4 separate regions of the Homo sapiens genome follow, and all the other regions are linked to region 1. Evidence: fine-mapped expression QTL. A gene starts in region 1. Each other region holds a variant in brackets. All regions are shown on one strand. Distances are from middle to middle. Region 1 holds the start of ATG13 (autophagy related 13). Region 2 overlaps AMBRA1 (autophagy and beclin 1 regulator 1). Region 3 overlaps ATG13 (autophagy related 13). Region 4 overlaps AMBRA1 (autophagy and beclin 1 regulator 1).

Evidence for each region. PIP is the estimated chance that this variant, and not a neighbour inherited with it, causes the effect.
Region 2: its variant is the best candidate, but not a certain one, in a credible set for the expression of ATG13 in whole blood (TOPMed, PIP 0.85).
Region 3: its variant is the best candidate, but not a certain one, in a credible set for the expression of ATG13 in whole blood (TOPMed, PIP 0.63).
Region 4: its variant is the best candidate, but not a certain one, in a credible set for the expression of ATG13 in whole blood (INTERVAL, PIP 0.56).

The regions. Positions count from the first base shown.
Region 1 is chr11:46,614,616-46,619,646 of GRCh38, reverse strand. It overlaps ATG13 (autophagy related 13), which reads right to left and starts at 2,094. Exons shown (of 19, transcript NM_001346311.2): 1 at 1,757-2,094. HARBI1 (harbinger transposase derived 1) reads left to right here and starts at 2,420. Exons shown (of 3, transcript NM_173811.4): 1 at 2,420-2,523; 2 at 3,266-4,079. The coding sequence starts at 3,410. RefSeq lists a silencer at 1,834-2,128 and an enhancer at 2,108-2,287.
Region 2 is chr11:46,496,648-46,501,678 of GRCh38, reverse strand. All of the region lies in intron 9 of AMBRA1 (autophagy and beclin 1 regulator 1), which reads left to right. Among named protein-coding and RNA genes, the nearest start is that of MIR3160-1, 47 kb to the right of the region's middle. The variant A/G (reference allele first, on the strand shown) is at 2,927.
Region 3 is chr11:46,669,536-46,674,387 of GRCh38, reverse strand. ATG13 (autophagy related 13) reads right to left here. Exons shown (of 19, transcript NM_001346311.2): 19 at 1-2,133. The coding sequence ends at 2,056. Among named protein-coding and RNA genes, the nearest start is that of ARHGAP1, 29 kb to the left of the region's middle. The variant G/A (reference allele first, on the strand shown) is at 3,249.
Region 4 is chr11:46,476,030-46,481,060 of GRCh38, reverse strand. All of the region lies in intron 11 of AMBRA1 (autophagy and beclin 1 regulator 1), which reads left to right. Among named protein-coding and RNA genes, the nearest start is that of MIR3160-1, 27 kb to the right of the region's middle. The variant G/A (reference allele first, on the strand shown) is at 2,083.

The DNA.
Region 1 (5,031 bases):
GGAGGCCAAGGCGGGTGGATAACCTGAGGTCGGGAGTTCAAGAACAAACAGCCTAACTAACATGGAGAAACCCCATCTTTACTAAAAATACAAAATTAGCTGGGCGTGCTGGCACATGTCTGTAATCCCAGCTACTCAGGAGGCTGAGGCAGGAGAATCGCTTGAACCCGGGAGGCAGAGGTTGCAGTGGGCCGAGTTCCCGCCACCGCACTCTAGCCTGGGCAACCAGAGTGAAACTCCGTCTCAAAAAAAAAAAAAAAAAAAAAAAAAAAAAGCAAGAAATCTACCTTCCAAGGACATTAAAAAAAAATCAGCTAATTATTTAAAATAACCTTTAAATCCCTTTAGGGACTTAAAATCCTTTTAAATATTTAAAACCCAAACTTTAGAAAGGTTTGATTCCCTCTGGGCAGCCTCCTTTGCATTCCTCCTGGCTACAGTACCTCTATTCTCTCGCAGAATATTTTCAGTTTTTATTGGTTTCCACAATTTGATAGGAAGCAATGACCAGCAACTCTATGCACTCTCCTCCACTAAGCACATGCAGGAAAAATGACGGTTTATGTAAATTCATCTTACTTAGCTCCACACCCCATGTTGGAAGTTACTTTCGAATATTCCACACCTAAAGTTCAAGTAAACTTCCTTCGAGATTAAGCTCCTGGGCCGGACTCTGTGGCTTATGCATGTAACTCCAACACTTTAGAAGGCTGAGGTGGGAGGATTCCCTGAGCCCAGGAGTTTGAGATTAAAGTTAGCTATGAAGGCGCCACTGTACTCCAGCTTGGGTAACACAGCAATACCTTATCTCTAATAATAATAATAAAAATTTTAAAATCTAAAAAACTAAAAGACTTCTCCTGAGCTGATAAATGGAGAGTTGAAAACAACAAAAAAAAAACCTCATAATTGAGCTGGAGCCACTACATGCACACATGAAAAGGACTAACAGTCATAAAACAACACACAAAATCTGGAAGCTAATTTAGTGTAAAGGAAGAGCTTGTTGTTTCTTATTATAATACATCTCCCACTAAAGGTGTCCAATAAATTCTATCACCTTAGGAGATGAGTTTTAAACTAAGTGTAATGAGAAAATAGGTAATTTTTTAAAATCTCTTTTTTCTTTTTGGCTGCGGGGTGGCCAGAGAACGAAGAAATACCAAAAGTGAAATGCTACGCTGAATTGACCAGGCTAACTGGGAACTCACTGGAAAAGTGAAAACTGGGAAGAATTAGTGATGAGCTCAAGAAGGTGCTTAGCCACTTACCCAGAGATTTATTTAATGAGAATGGATCACAGGTTTCCACAGGTCGTTCCACTGCCAGTAAGAAGACAGTCGTGAACCATGGGTCCCTTTTTTCACTAGTCAACAGTCACCCTCACCTACACGCGGAGTACATATTTGGCACTCAGCAAATCTTGATTGAATGAAAACCTACCTCACTCATATTGGCACCCAACCCCGGAGTTATGGCCCCCCAAATTACCTCCAAAACGCCTGACGACCTAACCCAAGGAGCTGAAAAAGTGGAGAGGAAAGCTCTGGGGTGGAGGGGATTCTCTGCCAAACAAGCAGGGGCCAACGGGGCCTAGACCAACTCAACTTCCCACAGAAAACTCAGGGGCCCAGGGGATTGAACCGTGGCTAATCCCTTCTACTTCCACGAAGCAGCAGCCAAGGGGCCGCAGATCCACAGCCTCCCACCCGGGGGCGCTGAGAGATCTTGGGGTATCCCCCGCAAAAGTTAGTACCTGCGAAGCTGCGGCACAAAGAGTGGTTCCGGGCTCTCATTACGGAGGCCGGGACCTGGGACCGACCAGCCGCGCCTCCTGGCTGAGGGTTCCGCGCTCCGGAGCTGCAGTGACCGTACACGTCGCCGATAGACACCTAAGGCTTCAGAAGGGTCCTGGCTCGCAGGCCCCAGACGTTTTGCTCCTAAGACTCCGCGAGTTGTCGCACCCACGTCGACTGGCGCTCTTCAGTGCTTCCCTCACTGGTTAAGCGGTCACTCCCGCCTTAAGCCCAGCAGCCGGTCGCTTCCCGGCGCCGCCATCGTTAGTGTTTGTTTTCATCCGCTTCGGTAATGGCCGGGGGGGGGGGGTGAAAGAGGGCTACGGGGGAAATCCAGATGCCTAACCTTAGTCGCACTTTCGCTACAGTACGGACGCCCTATTTATTCTTTTAGTCCTCAAAATATCCATAAAAGTTGATTTTCATTCCACGTAAGCTTTCTTCTCCAATCTTTCTAAGCTACTCAAGATAAAACAAAGACGGAAAGGCGGTGTTTGAGAGAGAGAGAGAGAGACCGTTTGGGCCGCGTGTGGAATGTGCGGAGATGAACCGCAGGTAGCCGCGGCAGCGGCAGTGAGGGCGCGGCGCGGGGCGGGCGCTGACGCGGAAGGGGCGGTGCCGCTGTTGCGCGCCGTGGCGGCCTCTGTGCAGTCGCCGGTTCCGGAGGAGGGCCCAACCCGGCTGGGTGGGTGGGAAGTGTGGCTGGTAACCTGGCAGCCGCGGAGAGGTGGGTGACGGGCCTGGGCTAACTGAGTGGCCGGCGCAATCAGACTTTGACATCCGTTTTTAGGGTGCCCTTTAAAAGTGGCAGAGTCGCTTCCCAAACCTGGTTCGGCCAGCCTCTTTTTCGCTCCCGACTTCCAATGTGTCTGGTCTTCCGTACTTCCTGGCCCTCAGGTTCACGATTTGGAGTTCTTGGAGTGAGGGAAAAGCCTTTTGTTACAGCACACAGTGTACGTCCATAAGGCTGGGTTGTGGACTTTGGTTGTTTTTTTTTTTTTTTTTTTTTTTTTTTTTTTGCCCCTTCTTTTCTTGTTAGACTGGTTTGAACACCCCAGCATCTGTCCTGTATTTGTCAGGTGAAACCAGAAGTCTTTGGATAATGAAACCCGTGACCAATTCTTACCCAAGGTGGTTATGACATATGTCAGCTGCTTCTTGGCCTATATAGTTAGAAGCCGACCTCTTTTACCTTGTGAATAATTATGTCATCACCTCCATTATTCTTTTGGTGTTCTCAATTGAAATGCCAAGCATTAAATGAGCCACAAAGATTGAATTCCCATTATCCTTGAATCAGAGCAAGCCTGTCGTGCAGCCATGAGTTAGTGGAGAAAAATCCGGAGTTGTAAGTACAGTACGTTTTGCCTCAACAAAATGGAAATTTGTAGAAAAGGAGCTGCTCCAGCCTTTGAGTCACTTTAAAGTCTTTGGTAGGTTCCTAATGTTTTTTCTTTTAACATTTACAGAGAGAAGATTATAAATGGCAGAGCCATTTAACTGTGGTTAGCTGTTGGATTCTGATACTTTCTTAAAAATACGTTCTTGCACCAACATCTTCATTGGGAACAGTTCAGAAAAAGCAAAGAGGAGAGCCAACATTCACATTTACCATGGCTATACCAATAACAGTGCTTGACTGTGACCTCTTGCTATATGGCCGTGGTCACCGGACATTGGACCGTTTTAAGCTGGATGATGTGACTGATGAATACTTGATGTCCATGTATGGGTTTCCACGGCAGTTCATTTATTACTTGGTGGAGCTCTTGGGGGCGAATCTTTCTAGGCCTACTCAGCGATCCAGGGCTATTAGCCCAGAGACACAGGTCCTTGCAGCATTGGGTTTTTATACCTCAGGTTCCTTCCAGACTCGGATGGGAGATGCCATTGGAATCAGTCAGGCGTCTATGAGTCGTTGTGTTGCCAATGTCACTGAAGCACTTGTGGAAAGGGCCTCACAGTTCATTCGCTTTCCAGCTGATGAAGCCTCCATTCAGGCTCTGAAGGATGAATTCTATGGGTTGGCAGGGATGCCAGGGGTGATGGGGGTGGTTGACTGTATCCATGTGGCCATCAAGGCACCAAATGCTGAAGACCTCTCCTATGTGAACCGAAAAGGCCTGCATTCTTTAAACTGCCTGATGGTGTGTGACATTAGAGGGACACTAATGACCGTGGAGACAAACTGGCCCGGCAGCCTACAGGACTGTGCTGTGCTGCAGCAGTCTTCCCTCAGTAGTCAGTTTGAAGCGGGTATGCACAAAGATAGCTGGCTTCTGGGTAAGTTTGCAAGTGTGAATTTTCATTTTGTTTGGAGGCATAGAAAAGTTATGTAGGCTGGGGGCGGTGGCTCACACAACCCCAGCACTTTGGGAGGCTGAGGCGGTAGATCACCTGAGGTCAAGAGCTGGAGACCAGCCTGGCCAACATGGTGAAATCTTGTCTCTACTAAAAATACAAAAATTGGGCATGGTGGCAGGCGCCTGTAGTTCCAGCTACTCGGGAGGCTGAGGCAGGACAATCGCTTGAACCCAGAAGGCAGAGGTTGCAGTGAGCCGAGATGGCGCCATTGCACCCCCACCTGGGCAACAGAGCAAAAACTCCATCTCAAAAAAAAAAAAAGAAAGAAAGAAAAGGGACCGCACGTGTAGCTCATGCCTGTTATCCTAGCACTTTGGGAGGCCGAGGCAGGCAGATCACCTGAGGTTGGGAGTTTAAGACCAGCCTGACCAACATGGAGAAACCCCGTCTATACTAAAAATACAAAATTAGCCGGGCGTAGTAGCGCATGCCTGCAATCCCAGCTACTCGGGAGGCTGAGGCAGGAGAATCGCTTGAACCCGGGAGGCGGAGGTTGCGGTTAGCCAAGATCGCGCCAGTGCACTCTAGCCTGGGCAACAAGAGCAAAACTCCATCTCAAAAAAAAGAAAAAGAAAAATTATGTAGTGGAGTAGAATGAGATATGGCAGTCTGTAGAGCTGAGTCTCAGTCCTGTCAGTTTTTTATGAGACCTCAGGTGAGAATTTTCTTAGCCTTAATTTTTAAAAAATCAACATTTAATAGACATTATTAAAACTTTAAAGCATACTGTTAGAGCCAGCACAGTGGCACGTACTAGTACAACTGGTAATTGTAATTCCAACTATCTGGGAGGCTAAGGCAAGAGGATCACTTGAGCCTGGACCTTGAGACCAGCCTGAGCAAGATAGCAAGACCCTGTCTCCAAAACAAT
Region 2 (5,031 bases), 120 kb after region 1:
TGGTCAATGTGGGGTGAGGTAAATCAAGGAATAGATGTTTGCAAAGTGAAAATTGTGAGGAACTACTATGTAGTTAAAACATAAACAGGAACAAATATGGTCAGTGCCCTGAGACTTAGTACTGCATCATTATTGTTGTGCATCTGTATGATTATTGTATGCTTTACATATTTTTACATTATTTTGTATTCATTTATTTTCCAACCTGCTTATTCCCATTCTGGCTCACAGGTGGCTGGAGCCTATCCTGGCAGCTCAGGGTGCACAGGGAGAACCTGCCCTGGACAGGATGCCATTCCGTCACAGGGTGCACTCATGCACACACCCACACTCACTCAGACTAAGGTAGTCTAGGCATGCCAGTTCATCCAATGTGCACATCTTTGGGATGTGAGAGGAAACTGGAATGCCCAGAGAAAACCCACACAGACATGGGGAAGTGTGCAAACTCAGACAGTGGCCATGGCCAGGAATTGATTTTTTTCCCTCATCAACATTATACAAAACAACATTGAATGAAACAACATTATTTGAGTACCAGCTGTAAATGCATGGTCATAGAAACATGAAACAGCATGGAATATTTGGGGAATTGCTTTGTTGATAGGTGTGGCTAGACTGTAAAGTTAAAGATGTGTGGCAGATGAGCCCCTAGAATGGAGCTAGATCTTTGTCTTGCGTGCCTTGCAAAGGAGATGAACTTTATCCCATAGGCAAGAGGGAATCATTGAAGCATTTTAAGTTATGGAATAGCATCAAGTTTTACATAAGTATCTAAAAAGATAGACTGTAATAAGTTACCACTAAAATACTAGGAGAGCATTGTATAAAGGGAGAGAGTATTTGGGGAGAGGTGAGAAAGCTTCATGGATTTGAGCTGGGTATTGAAGACTGCATAGAACTGTGAGAGAGGAATTGATATTGGTGATGGGTATAGCGAGGAGATTCTAGATAAAGGGAGTAGCTTAAGCAAAAGCGTAGAGACAGGAGATTTACAGGGCTTATTCAGGGACCCTGAATAGATCTGTGGCTAGAGCTATGGAGTGTTTGTGATATGAGAGAGATATCAGAAAGCCCCGAACTCTGGATGGCCTGGAATGCCTGGCTGAGAAGTTTGGACTTTGTCTCAGGCCAGCCATCATCCAATATATATTTTAGGCAGCTAACTCTGATAGCATTGGTTAAGGTGACCTAAAGTGACAAGTGTACTGATGCAGAAGTACCAGTTAGAAAGCAGTGGGCATAGTACAGGTGAGGATATCTGAGGGTTGCATTGTAAGTATTGATTGTCTGAGGGCTTGATGTTTTCTAAGTGTGGAGCCTGTTTGTGAATGTTTTAGGGGAACGAGCTTCCTGAAAGCACAGCCATCTTACTTTTCTTGTCTAAAAAAAAAATGCTAAGTCCTTTTTTACTCTTACTGGATCCAGTTTTGAACTAAATTTATAAATTAGCAATCACTGCTTCTTAGAACAGCAGTGACTGGCATTGAGATCACTTGTCAATGCCTGCTGGCCCCACAGCCTGACAGCTATTGTCTACGGAATAGTCCTGGGTTCTAGTCTTGGCTGAGGCTGTGATTTATTATCTGATCTTGAGCCGGCCCCTTTCCCATCCTAGGCCTCAGTGTCTGATGTGTAAAATGAGATTAGATAACCTCAGATTCTTGTAGCTTTAAGCTTCTTGGATCTTTGTTGGAGTTAACTATCTTAGAAAAATTTCCCCTGTCAGCCGGGGGCGGTGGCTCATGCCTGTAATCCCAGTACTTTGGAGGCCGAGGCAGATGGATCACAAGGTCAGGAGTTCAAGACTAGCCTGGCCAAGATGGTGAAACCCCATCTGTCTAAAAATATAAAAATTAGCTGGGCGTGGTGGCGGGCGCCTGTAAACCCAGCTACTCAGGAGGCTGAGGCAGAGAATTGCTTGAACACAGGAGGCGGAGGTTGCAGTGAACTGAGATTGCACCACTACACTCCAGCCTGGGTGACAAAGTGAGACTCCATCTCAAAAAAAAGAAAAAAAAGAAAAATTTCCCCTGTAGTAGGCAGAGGTACAATAATGAAAAGTCTCAGAAAAGTAAGGGGCCTTCCTGAGGATTAAGAATAGGCTATATGGTACCTGTCGAGCCTCAATGTATTTGTAAAATACATACTTTACCTGAATTCTAGCTCTTACTGAGGACTTTGATTTATTGCTTAAAAACGTGTAATATTGCTTAGCAACTTTAGAATTAATACTTTAGGATTCTAGAATTAGAATTACTGGGCAAGTAAAATACATATGAATATTTGTTAAGAGGAATGCAGAAGAAGAGAAAGAAAATGGAACACGTCTGGATTGTGCTTGGGCTTAGAATGGGAAAATACAGCAGGAAAGAATTACGCAGTGGGGGTTTGGGGGAGGAAGACATAACCCTTAGATTTATATGCTTATTTTTTAACATAAAATGCACAATAGGAATGTGGATTTGCATAATGTAGGCAGATGAAATTAAAAGGTAACATAAGGGAGGAGAGGAATTTGTAAATGGTAATTATCTCTTGTATTACCATTCCTTGGAGAAAAATGAAGGCTCTGTAGTTCCAGGAGACCTATGCTATTAGCTATTCCCTATGAATGATATCAGCTGGGGCTGTGCCTTCCTTCCAGAAATCAAAGCCCTTGCATATGTGCACAGTCATTGAAAGTAGAGACTGGGGCCTCAGTTTCTAACCAGCAGCACTCCAGTAAGGAAATGAGTTGACCAAGATCACTGTGCTCTCCAGGGACAGGAATACCAGCTAGGCCTTCTGTTGTCTGGAGATTGAGTAGAAACAGAGCAGCATAGGGAAACAAAAATTTTTTAATAGTCTAATTGTCAGCAAAGTCAACTGTATACTGTCAAGAGGACAGTGGCCTTTTGAGCTTTTTGCTGCAAGAGCTTCATTT[A/G]TAAAGGCCCAAGTCAGAGCCATTTGTCACTGAGGAGCAATGACAACCTGACTGTCTGGTCAGGACTCAGACAGCAGTCTGTAGGTGCATTTTTCATTCCTTCAAATTACAGCCTCTCTCCGAGGCAATTAATCCTAGACATTTAGCAAAAGAGCTGCTGCTGTGTTTCTCCCTTGTTCTGGAAATACATCTTCTTGTATTCAGCACTTATTTTGGATACTTGATTGTTTGAAGGGTGTTTTTTTTCTGGTAAAATCTTTGATAAGAAAGTATTTTTCCCCCTACTCCTTCCCAAATACCCCTCTGAGAGTTAATCAGAGATGCACAGAGTTCAGCAACTGGGAAAGCCATTAATAACCCAGCCAGCTTCTATCCTGCTGGCTCAAAGTCAGCTTCAGGCTGTTGGAATTGATGAGGGTTTCTCTGGTGTTTCCCTGAAAAGTATTCCTCCTATGTTGGAGGAGCAATACCAACATATTTGTGTACTCTGTTCTTCACACTTTTAAGTCATTACCCTTGGAAAGGGTGTTGGCTATGTTGTTAGAGCCCGGTATTTAGCACCCTTCACTGTTCCTAAACTGTCTGGGTCTGCCTTTCTCTCACTTTTCATCTGGCAAATATCTTCCAATTCACTCATATTCAGCCTCTGCCTGCCTGACCAAATTTGTCTCCTTCTATCTCATAGAGCCTTGGCTTGATGTCGACCTTGTATCAGCACGGAAGTGAGTGGCAGATTTCTGTGTAGTTTTCTAAGTATATCATTATTTTAAGTACTTTTAATTCCTGTGCTCTTCTATTGGAACTTATCCCTCTCCCTTCAGTTCTTCCACTAAATATCCCATGCATTGAAATTTCTTTTCCCACCCCAACCCATTATCTCTGAATCTTCCCCTCTTTCTAAACTATAGAATCTAGAGAGTCATCAGTTACTGTTTCTGCCTTTAGTTATTTGGAACTGTGCCTTTGGTCCAGGATTTCTGTGTACCAGTACTAAAACTGATGGCCTTTTCCCCTCTTCCTGTCGAACTCGTCCTTTTGTAGTATATTTTGACCTTTGCCACCTTACCCATTCCGGTATTCAAGGTTTTACCTGCTCAGTAAATGTTTGAGCTGGTTTGGTTATAGGCTATTTTATCCTAGAGGTCTGTGGGTTCTTTTCTCCCATAGGCAGCATCTCATATTGTGTTTATTATGTTTCACATTTTCCTGGTCGTGCTGGGTCCTCTCCTGTCATTTCTCCTTCAGAGTTCTCAACACTTGGAATTTGAAATCTGCTCTGCCTTGTATTGAGATGACATTTAGCTCCTATTTCTCCATTCTTAGCCAAGATGTTAAATAAACTGAGGACCAGCATGAGCACCTCCCCTTACTTAACATGTTGCCTCTTTTATAGTGCCTCGTGTAACCTTCAGTCTGAGACTGCGTGTATTTGAGCCAGCTGATCTCATTCTTGTTTTCCTTTATATATCCCCCACTAATCTCTAAACACTATAAAGCCATTATCTCTGACCATATTTTGCACCCTCTCTTTTCCATCAGTTTTTAAAAATGTTGGTAAAATACACATAACATAAAATTTATCATCTTAACCCCTTCCCTTTATTTTTTTATTTTATTTTATTTTATTTATTTATTTATTTTTGAGACAGAGTCTTGCCCTGTCACCCAGGCTGGAATGCAGTGGTGCACTCTTGGCTCACTGCAACCTCCGCCTCCTGGTTCAAGCGATTCTTGTGTCTTAACCTCCCAAGTAGCTGAGATTACAGGCGCTCGCCATCACGTCTGGCTAATTTTTGTATTTTTAGTAGAGATGAGGTTTCACCATGTTGACCAGGCTGGTCTCGAACTTCTAACTTCAAGTGATCTGCCCGCCTCAGCCTCCCAAAGTGCCGGGATTACAGGCATGAGGCACCACACCCAGCCCCCTTCCCTTTTTTTTTTTTTTTTAAATGAAGGGATAAACTGAATCAGAAAGAAATTATATTTAGGTTTTAATAGCAACAAAAAGATGCTTGTGACCTACGTTGTACGGGCCCACATTTTCCCCAGCCCTGGGGTTTGCCCCTTTTTCTCTGTTGTCTTCTTGTGTTCTTTCACCAAGCTCT
Region 3 (4,852 bases), 55 kb before region 1:
GTCCCAGCCTGTCCCGGGGGTGCTGCAGGAGTCAGTCTAGGGCTCATTCCTTTCATGGCAGGTCTGAGGGGCAAGGGCTGGCCTTAACAGTTGCTTTACTTCTCCCAAGCTCAGCTCAAAGTCATGGCTGAGACTCTTCACAGATGGAGCCCTGGTGAAAGGCTGCTGCCACCTGTAGATGCCAAAGATTGCTGCCTCAGACAATGGCTAGGCCTTTCCATGCAAGGCCTTGGAAAGAGAGCAGTAGCTGAAATATGGGGGCATCAATAACTTACCAGGGGCCTTCCCCCTTCTCAAAGCTGGGGCCTTGGGGATAAACCTGAGCCTGGGTTCAGCAAGCCACGCATGTGCTCTGGGCCAAAGTCAGGAGGGCCAGTTGGCTGCTACTGCTTCTGCTAACACTTCTTGGTGGCAGCAGCAGCACGCAGAGCTCTGGTCCCCGCCAGAGCCTGCTCCAATCCTCAGAAGTCAGCCTTGTATGTGGGAACAGTGTCACATGCAGTATACTAACAAGCAGCTGAGAACCACCTGCTCCACTGAAGCACAGCTGCTGCCAGTGAATGCCCCAGGTGGGCCAGGAGGAATGGAGTAGACCTAGATCTCCTTGACCAGGACTACCAGCGAGGCTGGGAAAGGACAGATCATAGGTGGGTGAGGCTAGGCACTTGACTTATTCAAGTAACAATACCTGAAGGGTTAAGTCAATCATACGCCCAGCTTTGATTTCTCAACCAGAAGCCAATCCAGCTGGTAAACCCCAGGGCAGTGTAGAGAACCTGGGATTAGAGGGAGATGGTAGCTAGGCCCAAGCAGGAGGAAAAGCTCCACAGGACAGCCCCAGGGATCAGGAACAAGTACCCAGGCAGTTGGGGGACACACACAACATCCCCTAACCACTACATGTGGCCATCACATTTAGCACCCAGGACTTCCTGGGCTGCCAGAATGGAGTCAGTCACTCTGCAGAAACTGTGGGAGATGTAAGGCTCTCACCAGGAATACGCAACTATCCAAGGTAAAGCCTTTAGTCAGTTCCAGTGCAGCCACACTGGGAGGTGACTTTGCCCCCGGCCAGCCCTCTTCTTGGATCTCGCTGTCTGTATGGTGGGAAGATCCTCAAAGCAGCAGCCCGGATTCTCAATAACCTCCGGAGGAGGAGGTCTCCGTCCCAGGAAGAGCCCTCCGCCTTCTCCAAGTGAAAAACAACTCACCTCAAACATATTTCCTCTATAAAATATCTGGTTTCTCTGAAAGTAATAAATATTTACCATGTTCTATAACCAAGGAGCAGCAACGGGGGGACAAGAGGAAGAGAACTTTGCTGTGACTCCAAGTGACAAAATCCTAGAGATTCAGGGTGCCATTTTTATTTCCCATGGAGCTGAGGACCTGAGCACAGGCAGCCACCAGGGCTGCTCAGACCCTCCCGACCTTCAGGGGTGGGAGTGGTTTTGGAGTTCTGATCTTGGGTAGGCAGGCCTGTCATATTGCCAGAAATACAGGCATAGAGGCAAGAGAGAGAAGAAGAGGAGAAGAAGATAGCAGGAAGTAAAGGGGACAATGAAGAGAGCTAAGGGACTCCTTCCTTCTTCCTCCTGGCACTGTCTCCTTCCTCTTTCTGCGACTCCACACCAATCTCTTGGCCACCAGCTGGAATGTCAAACAGTGGATGGTGACAGCAGGCAGGGAAGGGGCCAGCTGCAAGGCAGGCCCAGGCAGGAGGCCGGCAGCAGGAGGAACAGGATGACACCCTTGGGAAGCAGTTGGTGATGGGCAGGGCACACAGATGGCCCTGCTGAGGGCTTTTTCGTACGAAGGTTCTTCCCATCTCCAAGGCCAGCACGTGAGTCTTCTCCAACTGGGCACTGGGCTTGACTGCCGCCACGGAGTCTCCAGGAGGTCCAAGAGTAGGGACTTCTGGGTCCCCATGGGAGAAGCCAGCCTCCCTTCCACCTGGCTCAGAGCAGGATGAGGGGTGGGAGCAGCTGATGCATGGGAGGCTGCTTATGCCCTGGGGCCACAAAAAGGGGGTGCTGCTGGGACTCAAGGATACTTTTACTGCAGGGTTTCCACAAAGGCATCAAACTCGCGGACATTCTTCTCATGCACAGCCAGCTTCTCTGGTAATGAGTCCTGTACCGGAAAGAGAGGGAAGAGCCGTTTATTCAGGCAGGGCCTTGAGGAGGCAGCCAGCCCAGTCCCGAAGAGGGGAGGCAGCAAGCAAGACGAAGCTCAGCCCTAGCTGGGCCGAGCAAGTGGGAGAACGCAGGGCAGCTGCGTAGGCACAGGGTAGGGAGGGGTATATGCATCAGGGCTTTGCAGGGGCTGGAGGATTAATGGAACGGCCTTGGGAGTCCAAGTGGGCCACACACTTAACAAAAGAGAAAAGGACCACAAGAGCAAGATGATTCAGAAATTAAACATGAAATATCCCTGGCACAGATCTGACTGACACTAGAATAAAATACCAAGTGTACAGCTCTACAAATTAAACAGTTTACAAAAGATTTCTTCACACCCTTTGCTGGGCATCGGGACCCCCTGGGGGGAATGTGAACCAGGTGGCCCCACTATACTACTGACATTCTGACACAGTAGCAGGTCTGTGGTAAGGCCTAGGAATCTGTATTTTTAAATTTTTTTCTTGAGACAGAGTCTCGCTCTGTCACCCAGGCTGGAGTGCTGTGGTGTGATCTCAGCTCACTGCAACCTCCGCCTCCCGAGTTCAAGCAATTCTCTGCCTCAGCCTCCTGAGTAGCTTGAGTAGCCTCCTGAGGCGCCCGTCACCAAGCCCAGCTAATTTTTTGTATTTTTAGTAGAGACAGGGTTTCACCATGTTGCCCAGGCTGGTCTTGAACTCCTGATGTTGTGATCCACCCGCCTCGGCCTCCCAAAGTGCTGGGATTACAGGCATGAGCCACTGCACCCGGCCAGAATCTGTTATCTTTATACCAGCTGAGGAAGGGGTGAGTTAGAGATTGAGAGAGAATGGTAAAGACAGAAGCAGAGGAAAACAGAACTGTGAGAAGTTTAACTGTCCTAGAGTATCAACTATTAATAAAAATGCGTCTCTACTGATGACTAAATGAACAGAAGCTGCATCTGCAGAGTTTCACCATCACAATTTCCTGCCAGTAGGGGTTTAAACACGACCACAAGGGAGCGTGGAGAGTCTCTTGCCTCAGAGTTTTTAATGTGGCCTGGAGACACCAACAGCTGAGGGTGGTTTGGGTGCAGCTTCCTGAAAG[G/A]AGAGGGAGGCCTCAGAACTGGCTACGGCTGTGGCATCAGTTGAGAGAATTGGAGCCACACTTTCTTCCAAGTGCATGTCATGATAGGCAAGGGAGTTTAGTGGTTAAAAGGCTAAATTGAGGAACCAGATCCTCTAAGATCAAGCAAAGCTTTGTTTTGCCTGGGTCTGTGTGACTATGAGCAAGCTAATCATTGTTGGTTTTCTCATCTGTAAACTGGGATGAGAAAACTTACCTCTTAGGGCTGTTGAAGATTCATGTAAAACACTTAGAAAAATGCCTGGCACTCAAAAAGCCTTGATTTTTATTTATTTATTTATTTGTTTTTGAGACAGGGTCTCACTCTGTCACCTAGGCTAGAGGCAGTGGCGCAAACATGGCTCACTCCAGCATTGACTTCCCCAGCTCAAGCAAGCAATCCTCCTGCCTCCACCTCCCAAGGCAGCTGGAACTACAGACGGATGCCACCACGCCCAGCTAATTTTTTGTACTTTTTGTAGAGACAGGGTTTCACCATGTTGCTCAGGCTGGTCTTAAACTCCTGAGTTCAAGTGAAGGCCTCCTCAGCCTCCCAAAGTGCTGAGATTACAGGTGTGAGCCACTGTGCCTGGCCCAAAAGGTCTTGGTAGTAGTAATTATTACTTTTTTTTTTTTTTTTTGAGATGGAGTCTCACTCTGTCACCCGGGTTGGAGTGCAGTGATCCAATCTTGGCTCACTGCAACCCCCACCTCCCAAGTTCAAGTGATTCTCCTGCCTCTGCCTCCCGAGTGGCTGGGATTACAGGTGCCCGCCACCATGCCTGGCTAATTTTTGTATTTTTAGTAGAGACGGGGTTTCACCATGTTGGCCAGGCTGGTCTCGAACTCCTGACCTTGTGATCTGCCTGCCTTGGCCTCCCAAAGTGCTGGGATTACAGGCGTGAGCCACTGCACCTGGCTATTACTGTATTGTTATTACTGGGCATGCTTTTCTCCTTAAAGCAAATCCAGGGCAGCTACCATAGGATCTTAATATCTATTTAGGAGGTGATCATTCCACCTCAAAGAGGGACATCTCCTGGCATGGGGCACCCAGTTTGTGGCTTGTGCGGGGCACTCTTCTGCCCCTCAGAGGCAGGAAGAGGAAATGCCCTAAGCAGAGATGGGGTCATTATAATCAGTATCAGGACATCTGGTCAAGTGTGAGAACTGCTAGATGACGGAGTGAGCTCTCTGAGGAAAGAGCAAGAACACAGATACTCAGGACCTCACAATCTCCTCTGCCCAGTACCACTGGCATCTGCCTGGAAAGCTAAATAGCTAATGCAATGGCTGTTAGAGCAACTTGGCCTAGTGGCATCTGCAAGGAGAAGACGTCAGGCACAGAACAACAGGAGCATGTAAGTAATGCTGAGAATGTGCAGAGAAAGAAGGAACCAAGCTCAAGCAAATTCCAGATAATGACTGCTGGGCACAATGCCAATCTCAAGAGTGATCAAAAGATAATTTTCTAATTATGTCTCTTTCCTATTACAGGGAAGATAGAAGGTGGTAGGCCTCCTAGGCCTTTGGCAAAGGAATGACCATCAAATAAGGATGCACTGTGGTAGAGGAAGACGTTTCCA
Region 4 (5,031 bases), 140 kb after region 1:
GAAGTCAGCCAAAAGAGCCAAGAGGACATTAAGTTGCTATTGGCATTTTCCTTCTACTGAAGTTTTCCAGACCTTTAAGTATCAGCAAATTTGAGGGGGAGCCTAGTTGAGAAAATTTATTTGGCTAGTGAAGGGTTAGAGATCCCTCTTTAAGAGGCTGTGCCCCAAACCCCTCATTGGTCTCTATACGTAAAGGAGAGATAGTTGGATGGCAGTGAAATTTTCCTCTTCTATCAGCAGCTTTAGCTCTGTCAAAAGGTAGTCCTTCCTTGAAATCATTCCCTGGGACTTGCAGTATGTATATATTTTTTTCATGTATGTAGCTTCCAAAGTTGTAGAGCAAAGAGCCTCTCTCTGGTTGTTTTGAGATAATAAGGCTGACTTTGGTTAAACTTCAGCAATAATCTCTAGATCTGGACTAGAAGAAAAAATAAAATGAATTATTTTGTTTTATGACTCAGAGAACAAAAAACTGCCAGTTGCTTTTAAGGTACACATGTTGATCTAGAGCAAAGAAGGAAAAGACGCATGTATTGGGATGAGGGTTGCACAACCCTGGGAAGTGGTATAGCTTTGGCCATTATGTCATTTAGCTTTTGCTGCTGAACAAACCACCCCCAAATTTAGTGGCATAAGACATTTCTTGTTTCTCACAATTCTGCGAGTCCAATTGCAGTTTGCCTGGTCTGCATCATTGGCTCTTCTCTGTGGTCAATTAATAGCTTGGCTGGATGTGGATGATCTTAGATGGTTTAGTAGGTAAAATAATGATCTGCCTAAGAGGTCCTTCCACATCTTAATCCCCAGAACCTGTGAATATGTTACTTTACATGGCAGAAAGGACTTTGCAGTTATGATTAAGATTATAGATCTTGAGGTGGGAAGATTATCCTGATTTATCTGGGTGGGCCTCATCTGATTACATGAGCTATTAAAAGTGGAAGAGGAAGGCAGAAGGGTCAGTCAAGGTGCTGCAATGATCAAAGATGGGAATGGCCTCTGCTAACAGCTAGCAGCGAGTGGGAACCTCAGTTCTGCATCTGCAAGGAACTGAATTCTGCCAGCAACCGAAATGGACAAGGAGACAGACCCGAACACAGGCCAGCCAACACCTTTCTTCTAGCCCAATGAGTCCTTTGTTTGACTTCAGGCCTATAGAACTGAGAGATAATAAATTTGTCTTGTTTAAGCCACTAAGTTTCTGCTTGTTGTTATGGCAGTTATAGAAAACTGATAACAGATAGTTTCACACATGTATCTGGCATTTGGCAGGCTATTTGGCTTCAGCTGGGATGACTTGTCTCCTTTCTATTCACCAGTAAACTAACCTGTGCTTCTTCACATAGTGTCTCAGGGTTGTGTGTGTGACGGAATCTCGCTCTGTCGCCCAGGCTGGAGTGCCGTGGTGTAGTCTCAGCTCACTGCAACCTCCGCCTCCTGGGTTCAAGTGATTCTCCTGCCTCAGCCTCCCTAGTAGCTGGGATTACAGGCGCCTGCCACTACACCTGGCTAATTTTTGTATTTTTAGTAGAGACAGGGTTTCACCATGTTGGCCAGGCTGGTCTCAAACTCCTGACCTCAGAGTTCTGAAAAGAAGCAGGAGAGGTCAAGTCCTACTGCATAAGCACTTTTTGAATCTCTCCTTATGTCATGTTTGCTTTTGTCCATTCCATCAGCTAAAGCAAGCTGTTTGGGTAAGCCCCAAACCAGGAAGAAGACTCTCTAAGGCCATGGATACAGAAGGGCCTAAATCATTTGGGGCCATTACTGTAACATGCTGCCACAACTAAGTAGGCTTTGAAATCTGAGGTAGCCTGCTAGCACACTCTGAACACATTGCTTTTTTTTTCTTTTCTTTCTTTTGAGATAGGGTCTCACTCTGTTGCCCAGGCTGGAATGCAGTGGTTTGATTACAGCTCACTGCAACCTCTGCCTCCTGGGCTCAAGTGATTCCCCGGCCTCAGCCTCCCAGGTAACCGAGACTACTGCACATGCCACCATGCCTGGCTAATTTTGGTATTTTTTGTAGAGACAGGGTTTCACTGTGTTGCCCAGACTGGTCTTAAACTCTTGGGCTCAAGC[G/A]ATCCTACCACCTTGGCCTCCCAAAGTGTTAGGATTACTGGCGTGAGCCACTGCGTCCAGCACAAATTGCTTTTTTTAAAAGTGTCCTTACATATACTGAGGAAAGCTTCAGCATACCAAAGGATATAAAGGTACAGATTTAGAACTTTCAAGAAATATCTTCGGGCATGGTGGTGCATGCCTGTAATCCCAGCTACTCGGGAGGCTGAGGCAGGAGAATCGCTTGAACCCGGGAGGTGGAGGTTGCAGTGAGCCGAGATTGCGCCATTGCACTCCAGCCTGGGCAACAAGAGCGAAACTCCATCTCCAAAAAAAAAAAAAAAAAAAAAAGAGAAAAAAGAAAAAAACAAGAAATATCTTGCCTTAGGTAATTATTTGGGTTATTCAGAGAAATGAATTTAGGAACAACATTCAAATAAAAAGCTGGACCCTGGTTTCCTAGACATAGGATATCAGGGAAACTACCTTTTCTCTTTCTCTGGGTATTTTCTAGGATATAGCCCTGTATTTCTGTGCTGGAGGGTAAAAAGATGTGCAAAAGAGCTCTGTGGGTGGTTGGGCCCCTTGGGGCCAAATGTATTTCTGTGTAGGAGTAAGACTGACAGAATTAACTGTGCAAGCACTTACTAATTTGCTGTAAGTGAACCTGTACCCGTGGCATCATTTATAATCCAGAGCTCCTTGAACAGAAGCAACTCAGAAGAAAAGTTCCTAAAAACTAAGGCAAGGAATTTTTGTGTGCCCAATTACTGTGGCATATTATGCTTTCTTATAGCAGTGGTTGGGAGAAGCAAGAATTCAGCTATTCTCAAGCATAGGACTTAGCTTTTACTTGGCATTATTGAGATTGGTTAAAAACTATTTTATGGGGACCAAATGTGAATTGCATAGATTGGGCCTCAGGTCACATAGAGACAAATTCAGTATATTCACCAGTCATTCTTTTTTTTTTTCATTCACCAGTAAACTAACCTGTGCTTCTTCACATAGTGTCTCAGGGTTCTTTTCAAAGTAGAGAGTTCTTTTAAAATACAAAAATTAGCTCTGGCTAATTTTTGTATTTTTAGTAGAGATGGGGTTTCGCCATGTTGACCAGGCTGGTCTCGAACTCCTGACCTCAAGCGATCTGCCCGTCTCAGCCTCCCAAAGTGCTGGGATTACAGGCGTGAGCCACTATGCCTGGCCTCACCAATCAATCTTTTAGGACTTCCTTGATGTACTTTTAGAACCACCTCAGTCGCTGATGGGCTGGGGGCTCTGCTGTTGATAAACCCTGGATATTATCCTAGGCATGTGCATTCAAAATGGTATAGCCTATGTACAATAAAGACGTGTCCTCAAAGAGGCTGGGCACAGTGGCTCAAGCCTGTAATCCCAGCACAGTAGGCCAAGGTGGGAGGATTGCTTGCACCCAGGAAAGCCCAGCCTGGGCAACATAGTGAGAGCTCATCTCTACAAAAAGTTTTTTTTTTTTTTTTTCCAGAAATTAGCTGAGCTTGGTAGCATGTGCATGTAGTTCCACAGTTCCAGCTACTCAGGAGGCTGAGGTGGGAGGATCATTAGAGCCTGGGAGGCAGAGGCTGCATTGAGCAGAGATCACATCACTGCACTCCAGTCTGAGTGACAGAGCAAGATCCTGTCTCAAAAAAAAAAAAAAGAAGTATCTTTAAAGAGACAAAGACTCTCCCTAATGAAAACTCGGCCTTATCCTTTTTTGTCTGATAAGAGTTAGAGGTTGTGGTGATGAGATTGAGCTAGTGTCCTTCTATTCTGCCTTTACTTTTACTCCTGGGTCCCTTTCCCCTCCCACCCTTCCACCTTTCTCCCTTTATCTGTTGTGGGTCTCAGTATTTAAGCAGATTTTTTTTTTTTTTTTTTGAGACAGTCTTGCCCAGGCTGGAGTGCAGTGGCGCAATCTCGGCTCACTGCAACCTCTGTCTCCCAGGTTCAAGTGATTCTCATGCCTCAGCCTACCTAGTAGCTGGGGGGTTACAGGCGTGCGCCACCATGCCCAACTAATTTTTTTGTATTTTTAGTAGAGACAAGGTTTTACCATCTTGACCAGGCTGGTTTCGAACTCCTGGCTGATCCACCCACCTTGGCCTCCCAAAGTGCTGGAATTACAGGCGTGAGGCACCACACCCAGCCTTAAGCAGAATTTGAACTTGATTTTCTTTAAGGCAGAACTAATAGAGCTAACACAGGAGCTAACTGAGAGCTTATAAAAGCCACAAAGTGTTTCTTGGTCTAAATATTTTTCTGGATTCTGCTGATGTGAAGCAACTGGGGAAAAGTGGTAAAATGTTGTATAGCTTATTTTGCAAACTAATTAAAACTGAAAATATCAGTGCAAAGCTGGAGTAAATTGTTTAAAATGCCCAGTTTCTTCACTCCCATGTTCTAGGTGGAGAGGCCACAGGGACAGTTTAGGAGCACATGCTGTGAATAAGTTTCTGGCTATTCTAATCTATGTCTTACCTGGGAAGAATGTGAAGGTCCTATGGGATAGAAGCAGTACCAGCACCACGGGTTGGCTTGGGACTCTTTACGTATCTCCCCACCACTATTATCTAACCACAAGCCACCCCTAAAAATACACCATCTAAGTGAAAAACAGTGTGCTTGCTCTGCCGGCAGCTTCAAGACAAGTCACCTAACTTGTGCACACCCTACTCGTTCACCTGCCAACCCTGAGACTCATTTATAGAATTTCTTGAGCTGCCACTGGATGGAACTAACAGAGAAATTGGCCATGGGATTTGGAGGTAATAGTGCTGAAGGAAACACTGACTGGCTGATTTCCCCTCTCAACTTCATGGACACTTTTTCCTCTTCTCTGTTATTATTTCTGGGTACTGTGTGTTGGAGGTTTGGTTTGTGTGGACTCATCAGTCATTGTTTTCAGGCACTGAGTGCAGCTCTCCACCTTTTCCTTTGTGATATTAGTGT